Linked DNA regions of Homo sapiens: all the other regions are linked to region 1. The links come from fine-mapping of genetic effects on plasma protein levels. A gene starts in region 1. Each other region holds a variant in brackets. All regions are shown on one strand. Distances are from middle to middle.

The links. PIP is the chance, under the fine-mapping model, that this variant and not a neighbour inherited with it causes the effect. The UK Biobank Pharma Proteomics Project read protein levels with antibody pairs (Olink). The fine-mapping took linkage between variants from a reference panel, not from the people measured, so its PIPs are less certain.
Region 2: its variant is fine-mapped to the plasma level of the CPE protein (UK Biobank, PIP above 0.99).
Region 3: its variant is fine-mapped to the plasma level of the CPE protein (UK Biobank, PIP above 0.99). The variant lies in the coding sequence of CPE. If it changes the protein, the assay may bind it differently, which can mimic a change of level.

Annotation. Positions count from the first base shown.
Region 1 is chr4:165,377,576-165,380,345 of GRCh38, reverse strand. It overlaps CPE (carboxypeptidase E), which reads right to left and starts at 1,338. Exons shown (of 9, transcript NM_001873.4): 1 at 818-1,338. The coding sequence starts at 1,124. RefSeq lists a silencer at 1,046-1,305.
Region 2 is chr4:165,339,011-165,341,780 of GRCh38, reverse strand. It overlaps MSMO1 (methylsterol monooxygenase 1), which reads right to left. Exons shown (of 6, transcript NM_006745.5): 5 at 1,406-1,560; 6 at 1-30. Among named protein-coding and RNA genes, the nearest start is that of MSMO1, 13 kb to the right of the region's middle. The variant A/G (reference allele first, on the strand shown) is at 1,133.
Region 3 is chr4:165,494,376-165,497,145 of GRCh38, reverse strand. CPE (carboxypeptidase E) reads right to left here. Exons shown (of 9, transcript NM_001873.4): 8 at 1,469-1,587. Among named protein-coding and RNA genes, the nearest start is that of MIR578, 110 kb to the right of the region's middle. The variant G/A (reference allele first, on the strand shown) is at 1,533.

The DNA of each region.
Region 1 (2,770 bases):
CAGTTGGAATAAAGACCCCATCACAAACTATTCATCTCAAATGGTTATAGCAGAGAAAATGGAATACTCCTTTTTCCTTGGAAAGGCCTTGTGCAGTTTCAAAATCTGGTTTCAAAAGTCAGAAACCACTTTTCACCCTGGTAGGAGGAGGGGCACCAACGTATCTTTATACACCACCACCCCAGATTGGCAATATCCCTAAGATTCCCCAAGCATCCACAGCAGCGAGTGTACCTAATACGTATACACACACAGGTAGAGATGGGTACACAGAGCCAATAAACTGGTCCTCTGGAAATTAGAGAAAACATGATAAATGACTCTTTCTCCCTCGTTCTCCTTTCCTCTCAATCACTGCCTTCTGCACCTTATCTTTCTACTCTTGTCAGCAAGGAAGACCAACCCCCCTTGCGGGGGACTCGCAATCATTCCTTTGGGTTTTTCACACAGCAAAGTGAGAGCGACCGCTGGGGTTGCGTGCGTCAGGATTTGTTTTTTCTGTATTGCTATCCCCCCCATCCCCCGCCACCCCAGCCTCCCAAGCCTATACTTACTAGAGGGTGGCCTAAGGTCTGGGGAGATGGGATTGGTGCTGGGGGGATGGGACGGGAAAGCAGAAATTGGGCCACTGGCGCTCTAAGTCGGGTTCTTCCCCATTTCCATCCCTCCCTCCACTTCCCACCTTCCACCTTAGATACCTTTTACCAAGAGGCACCCCTGGGCCCATCCCTCCCTCCTTCCCCCACCGCCACCAGTCCCACCCTCTGCCGCCCCCCTCCGGGATGCCCCCAGGGCTGTCAGGGGGCAGCGCCCTTACCAGGCTCATGGACGCCAGGGTTGTCGGACAGCTCGATGACCAGGAGCTCCCGGCCCTCGAAGCTGCGCCCCACCGTGTAAATCCTGCTGATGGCGGTGCACTGCAGCCACACGGACACGAGCGCCTCGCGCAGCTCGGGGTAGCGGTGGTACTCGAAGGAGATGCCGTCCTCTTGCTGCAGCCGCCGGCGCCGCCTCATGCCCGCCGCGGGCGCCCCGGGCTCCTGGGCTTCGGCGCCCAGGAGCCACCCGCAGGCAGCCAGTGCCCCGCACAGAGCCAGCAGCGCGCTGCCCCCTCGCCCGGCCATCGCTGCGCTCCGCCGCCGCCGGCCGTGCCTTCCTACGCGGGCGGCCTCTTTTGTCTGCCCGGCCCTGGGCTTAGCCCGCCGGCGCTGCTGGGGGCGGCAAGTTCCGCACCAGCCTCTACTCGCCTCACCTTCCCCGGCTGAATGAGTGTCAGCCCGCGCACTGGGGCCACCCAGAGGAGACGGGCAAAGCCGCGGCTCCACGGGCTGCACTACTGGCCGCGGAGCCCAGGGGAGCTGCAGGAGAAACCACTGCGAGGAGGGGGCCGGCGGAGAGACGGGCCGGCGTGGATCTGGGAGGGCTGCTGGCGTTATTTGCTGGCTCGGAACCACGTCAACAGCCAAATGGCGTCCGGGACGACGCAGGTGAAATGACAGCTAAGGTCCGGGGTTCGGGAACGTTACTGTCATTGAGACACCCATGACCCACCCACGTCACTGCGTATGGAAAAAATATTCTTGTATTGTTAGTGGAGCCTTTTAAAGGGACATCTATTCCAAGCCTACCAGTTTCCATCTTGATCCACCAAGAATTAGAGAATATTCCAGAAAAAAGGAAGTACTGGCAGCCACTTGCCATCTCCTGATGCGTCTTTCATAATTGTATCAAGAGTCAAAACACAAACCCAAGGGTTGGGTTTTCATTTATTAGAAGGTCTTGCTGGAAATCAGAACATTAAGTGCTTTGATTTAGAGGTTTAAGAGAATAGAAATGCTTTCTTCCAATTTGTAGATACTGTCCTTAATTGTATTTATGCACATTCCTAGATTCTTCCAGAAAACAAACAGACAAAATAAATAAGGCAATGTCATATGGCTGTGCCTGCACCAGCCCTCCTCTTTAATACTATGGGGAAAATAAGTACAACTCTGCTGATGCTTTAGACAAAGGATTTAGTTTGGCATTAAGATTAAATCCTGTTAAGAAAACTCTGATGATGACATGACACCTCCGTTCCTTTTGCAAAGCTATTGTAAAAATAAAAAATCATTTACAGCTTTAAATATCCACCCCTTAGTCGGGATTTATATTCCTGGAGCAATGTCTGGAGCAGATGTTACTCTAAAGAGGCTGCTGTTTGGATTCAGGGACAGCACAAATCTAAATTAATAAATAATCCATTGGGTATTGCAACCGAGCAGGAAAAGTGGACACCATGCGGGTAATTTTCCATGTTAAGCTTCTTTGTTTTTCTAAACTTGTTCATTCTTCACCTGTTTAACAATGCATTGCACATAATAAAAACTTTTACGTGGAAAAGGAGTTAGATATTTAAGTCATCTTATTGGATCAATAAATAAAAGCACAGACATGGTTGGTAAGGTGCTGCTGGAGGGGCTGGCTTTAAACACCCCTATGTACATATACTACAGCAGCATGGATCTTCTTTTTTTTTTTTTTTTTTTTTTTGCGTTTTCGGGGAGAAACTGTCACTGTAAACACATGGCACTCAAGTTGAATTGATGTGGATCCAGCCATTTTTTTTTTTGTCAATGTAGGCAGAGCTAAAAATTGTATATTTTCCACTATGACCAGTCTGTGCTTGATTACATGGTCCAGAAGTTTGAAATCAAACTTATAATTATATTTCTAAAACCATGCCCAAAACAGCAACCTTGGAAGCCTAGAAAAAAAAATTGAGTAGCTA
Region 2 (2,770 bases), 39 kb after region 1:
TTTAAAGGGTTGAGAGGAATATCATAACCACTGAAACAAAAATGATAAAGATTATTAAGGAATAAATACATCTCAAATGATTGTTGTTTTTATTAATAATCATGTGTTCACATTAACCAATTTAGATAACATGCCACTTTGCCTAGACCACTTTATTTCTAAGTGTTCACAAACAGCAAACACAGAAAATGGTGTATATTCTAGAAACCACTCTAAGAAAAAAAATCCTTAAAAAAACTAAGAAAATCATTTATTTTATGATAAAATATATGAATGATGGAAGAGACGGATTATAGTAATGAATCTTTAGACACAGATTTTTAAGAATTAATTTTCTTTTATGTTTTAGAGGAAGCTTTCTCACCATCATGTATAACAGTTGTAAATAAAGCCCAAAATACTAAATATGTTTTTTAGGAAAAGTCACATAAAATTAGTATCAAGTATTAAAAAGGGCAGGCCCATGAATCCCTGTATAGCAACTTCATTTACTTTTTTAGGCAATGACAAGTTGGAATCAAATGTACCACAATTAATCAAAATACCAGTGTACTTTTCTATAGTTGGCAGAAGACAAATGGCTTCAAAAAAGAGTCCCATTTAAAGTATGCTCCTTTATTTCCAACTACATATCTACAATCAGACATCCAGTTATACTTATTTGAATCACTCTAACCCTCTCTTCCTTTGAGGAGCTTAGAGGAAGGAAGGCAGAAAGAAACAATGGATAGAAAAAAAAAAGAAAGAAATGTCAATTACAATTTTTCTACAGAAGAATATTCTCTGCCTAGGACTAGAAGCATTAATTTTGCTACTTTAGCACTTTAAAAATAATTCTTAGAATTTGATATTCTGCATTCATGAGTACAGAAGTATGTCCCAAGTCAAAATGCAATGAACATATAATTAAAAAATAATGAACAATTAGGATAAGCATTTAAGAAGGCATTCAATATAAATAATTTACCACAAAATGTCTTCCAATCAACAGAAAGGATGCATTTGAAATATGTATGTGTTACAAGTAGTAGTTTCATCTTGCAAGTGCCTTTATCAGTGCTGAACAGTAGAGATTAGAAAGTCTTATTCAAGGAAGGCTGAATGCTTTGATATTTTTTTCAAATATGAGTTA[A/G]GTTTAGGTTTATTACAGAAGGATAAGGAAATTGCTGGTCCTGAATATATACTTGCCCTAATAACACATTATCACTATAAAAATTATAACAGCATAGGCTAGAATGTAAAAACATCTATTATTTAAACTTTTATCCAACAGTTATGTTTTCTTAATATAACATTAAGAAGATTAACTTCTCCTATTAGTCTCCTTAGAAATATGATAATCTTATGGCCATGAAAATAAATATATTTCATTATGCTTTATACCTGAACAGAAATTAATACTCACCTATGGACATCAATAGTTTCTAATAAACGAATGGTCACCCATGCCCAAAGAAGAATTACATGATCACACAAAAGCACGATTCCAATGAAAAATCCAGTTCCAAGAATTAGAGTCTCCAAAGGATGTGCATATTCAGCTTCCATTCCAAATGGAGCCTAAGACAAACAGATAAGAAATTCTTAATTTCTTAGCTATTGTGATGGTCAATTTTATGTGTCAACTTGGCTAGGCTATGATATCCAACTGTTTGATTAAATACCAGTCTAGATGTTGTTGTGAAGGTATTTTTTAGATGTTGTTAACATTTAAATCAGTAGACTGAGTAAAGGTGATTACCCTTCATAATGAGGGTGGGCTTCATCCAATCATTTGAAGGCCTTCAGGATAAAAGGCTGAGGTTTCCTGAAGAAGGATTCTCGAGACTGCAACACTGAAACCCTGCCTGAGTTTCCAACTTGCTGCTCCATGGAATTTGGACCCAAGGCTGCAACAATTCTTACCTGGATTTCTAGTCTGTAGCCTGCTTTACAGATTTCAGACTTGACAGCCGCACACTTGCATGAGCTGATTCCTTAAAATAAATCTCTCTCTGCATATATATACCCCAATGATTCTGCTTCACTGGAGACTTCACTAATATATATATCCTATTTATGCATAAAGTTTTACAAAGTTATATTGATTCTATATGTAGTGATGATTTATCTAGTCATACACTTATAAATAATACTAGCAATTCTCAATAAAAATACCTTACTCCACATCAAAAGTCTAGGGATATAAAATCTTGCTGTCTTTGATGGTTTAAGATAAAGGCATTAAATAATTGACTTGAACTCTAATTTTGACTTAAGTATTTATATTTGTTCTTCTAATAAAGAGAGGCTTGATTTGGCACACCATGTAATCACGGTCAATGCAAAACATACTCACATAACCAGTTGACAAAGCTACATCAAAGCAATTCTAATTGGCCGGGCATGGTGGCTCACGCCTGTAATCCCAGCACTTTGCGAGTCCAAGGCGGGTGGATCACCTGAGGTCAGGAGTTCGAGACCAGCCTGACCAACATAGTGAAATCCTGTCTCTACTAAAAATACAAAATTAGCCACGCGTGGTGACGCATGCCTGTAATCCCAGCTACCTGAAAGGCTGAGGCAGGAGAATTGCTTGAACCCAGGAGGTGAAGGTTGCAGTGAGCTGAGATCATGCCATTGCAGTCCAGCCTGGGCAACAAGAGCAAAACTCTATCTCAAAAAAAAAAAAAAAAAAAAAAAAAGCAGTGCTCATAGAAGTTACTGTTTTTGTGGGAGTTAGCAATGTGAGGATCTAGCTGTGCCAGTGTAGCACTGTCCACAAGGATGG
Region 3 (2,770 bases), 120 kb before region 1:
ATTCGAGGCCCGCCTGACCAACATGGTGAAACCACATCTCTGCTAAAAATACAAAAATTAGCCGGGCACGGTGGCGCACGCTGTAATCCCAGCTACTCAGGAGGCTGAGGCAGGAGAATTTCTTGAACCCGGGAGGCAGAGCTTGCAGTGAGCCAAGATCGTGCCACTGCACTCCAGCCTGGGCGACAGAGCAAGACTCTGTCTCAAAAAAGAAAAGAAAAAAAGAGGATGTAACTTATAGTTAATTTTCTGCCTTTGGTTATTTAGTGAGCACCTCCTGTCAGCCTTGAATCTTTTCCTAATGTGGGAGGGAATGTGGAAGAATACAGTTCAGCATGCTGGTATCCCAAACCACAAGGTTCTGCTATCCAGAATCTTGAATTTGTTAAAGAAACTGACAAAAGCACGTATGTGTCCAAGCCACTCTCTTTGTGAATGGGAATCTTCATCAGGTCTAGGGAGAAGCCACACACTCCGCATAAAAGGCTATTCAAAGTAGGCAGCCCCCAACCCCAATCCCCTCAGGCCCCATCCCAGATGGAACTAAGAGTTTCTTGATTTGGCCACTTAAACGCCTGATTATTTTGGATCGTGATTACACTGACTATATCCTTGCACTAACACATGCCAGAAAGACAAAGGATCAAAATAGTTGAACCTTTACAACTTGTTCCCAGGGCCATTTTTTCCAGGTTTCAGTTACCCAAATATACCTCTTGATTTTAATACATATACAGCCCAATGTAGACATACATGCACACAATCAAAACCATATACCAGTTAAAAACTCAAGATATTTTGTTTGCATAAATCAAGCATTTATACTCCAAGTTTTGGGTACATAAACAAAAATAATAATAAATTCTTTTCAAGTAAGCTTTTTAGACTTTCAAGAAATCCTACAGGTATTCCCACGGTCCCAGGCATATAATACAAAGGTAGTAGTAAAATTCTGCTCTAAGAGAAGTTTTGGTCTTATCACCATCACCTTCCTAACAAACAAATGAGATCTACTTAAATAAGATATGGTTTTTGATACTACTTAGCACAGAGAGCCTTGCACATAAAATATGCTAAATAAGTGTTTGGTTACCACCTAAAATTTTCTTATATGCATCATTTTTTTTTCAAATACTTATTGAGAAAGGCACTGCGCTAGGTGCTAAAGATAAAAAGGCAAATGAAACATAATCCCATTGAGATGGAAATCAAGGTTAGCAAATAAAAATTTAATTTTTTAAAGTTTTATTTCATTTTCTTGTAAATCTCTTCAAAAACTGAGAAATGGTAATAGAGCTTCATATTAACTTTGCTAAGCCTCAGTTTTCTCATCTGTTAAGTTGAGATAACAATGTTGCCTACCTCATAGGGCTAGTACGAAGATTAAATATAAATCACTTCAGTATGCCTGACAATGATAAATGCTTAATTATTATTATAGCGTTTGGCTATTATTATGATTACTTACCCCAGCAGCAGGGCTGTAAGGAACTGCCACTTTCTTTGTTATTGCCAGATAGCCTGGAGCTGAG[G/A]CTGTAAGTTTATAGTTTCCAGGTATAAGCAATCTCCAGTAATCACCATCCTTTGCTGTAGGAAGGCAGAATATCAAATCACAAAGCACATGAAATATGCAGAATTACACAATGCATAATTATGCCATCTAAGGAATACCCAGTCTAGCTCAGTTCACCTTTTTTGATTCTCGATTTTTAAAGTAAATATATAGGGAATTTAATGAAATTTTATTGAATAGGGTGTGAAACTCTCTTTACAGGCTTCATTTCTTATAGCTACTTTATAGATATCAATGTTAAATTGTCTAATAAACCTCGTACGATCATAGATCTTCTAATCACATCAGGAGCAACACAGGTAAAAAGACAGATGAATTCCCCAAGCAGCAGGGTCAGAACATACAGCCATCATGTTTTGATTCTTGCCAGGTGAAGACCTGCTGGTCAGAGAATCTTCACAGAGTGTGGGCCAAAGGTAGCCCTTGTAGGATCTCTGAGGTCCTAGTTAGAAATTTAGATTTCTAAAGACTTAGAATACACTGGGCACCCTAGTCCATTCAATCTCCCATTTACCTAAGTCAGTGATTTTCAAACTTGGGTGCAAACCTGGGAACTTGGTAAAATGAAAAATCTGATTCCAGCTCCCAGGTTCTGCATTCCTGACCAGCCCCAGGGCAATGCTAAGGTTGCGAGCAGAGGCCACACTTTGAAGAGCAAGGTTTTCGTAGACACTTCACACCTTCTCCTTTTTCCTAACACCCCTACACATCCTGTTCAACCTCCCAGTTGTTACTTTACATCTTATTTCATTGCAAAAATAGGTACAGTCAAAAAAATTAAGCCCCCATCACCGTATCATCAAATCTACCTCTAAATCTACATCTCCTTGCAGCTAGTGCCTCAATTGTCTTTTTGCTTTATAGCAAAATTTCTGGAAAGGTTTGTTCATGTTCTCAATCTCAGAATGGTTCTTTTCTTATTCTGTCTTGGACCCAGTCCAATCAGGATCCCACCATTCACTCCATTGAACAGATTTTTTCAAGATCCTCTGAACTGCTAAATCCAAGGATTCATTCACAAGGTTCATCTTAATTAACGCTTTTTCACTCCCTTCTTCTTGAAGCACTTCAAAGCCTCCAGGACAACACACTTCATTTTCTACCTTCAGTACAACACACTTCATTTTCTACCGTCAGTTCTATTGCTGGTTCCTTCTTATTATCACCTTGTCCCTGAAAAGCTGGAGTATTCTAGAG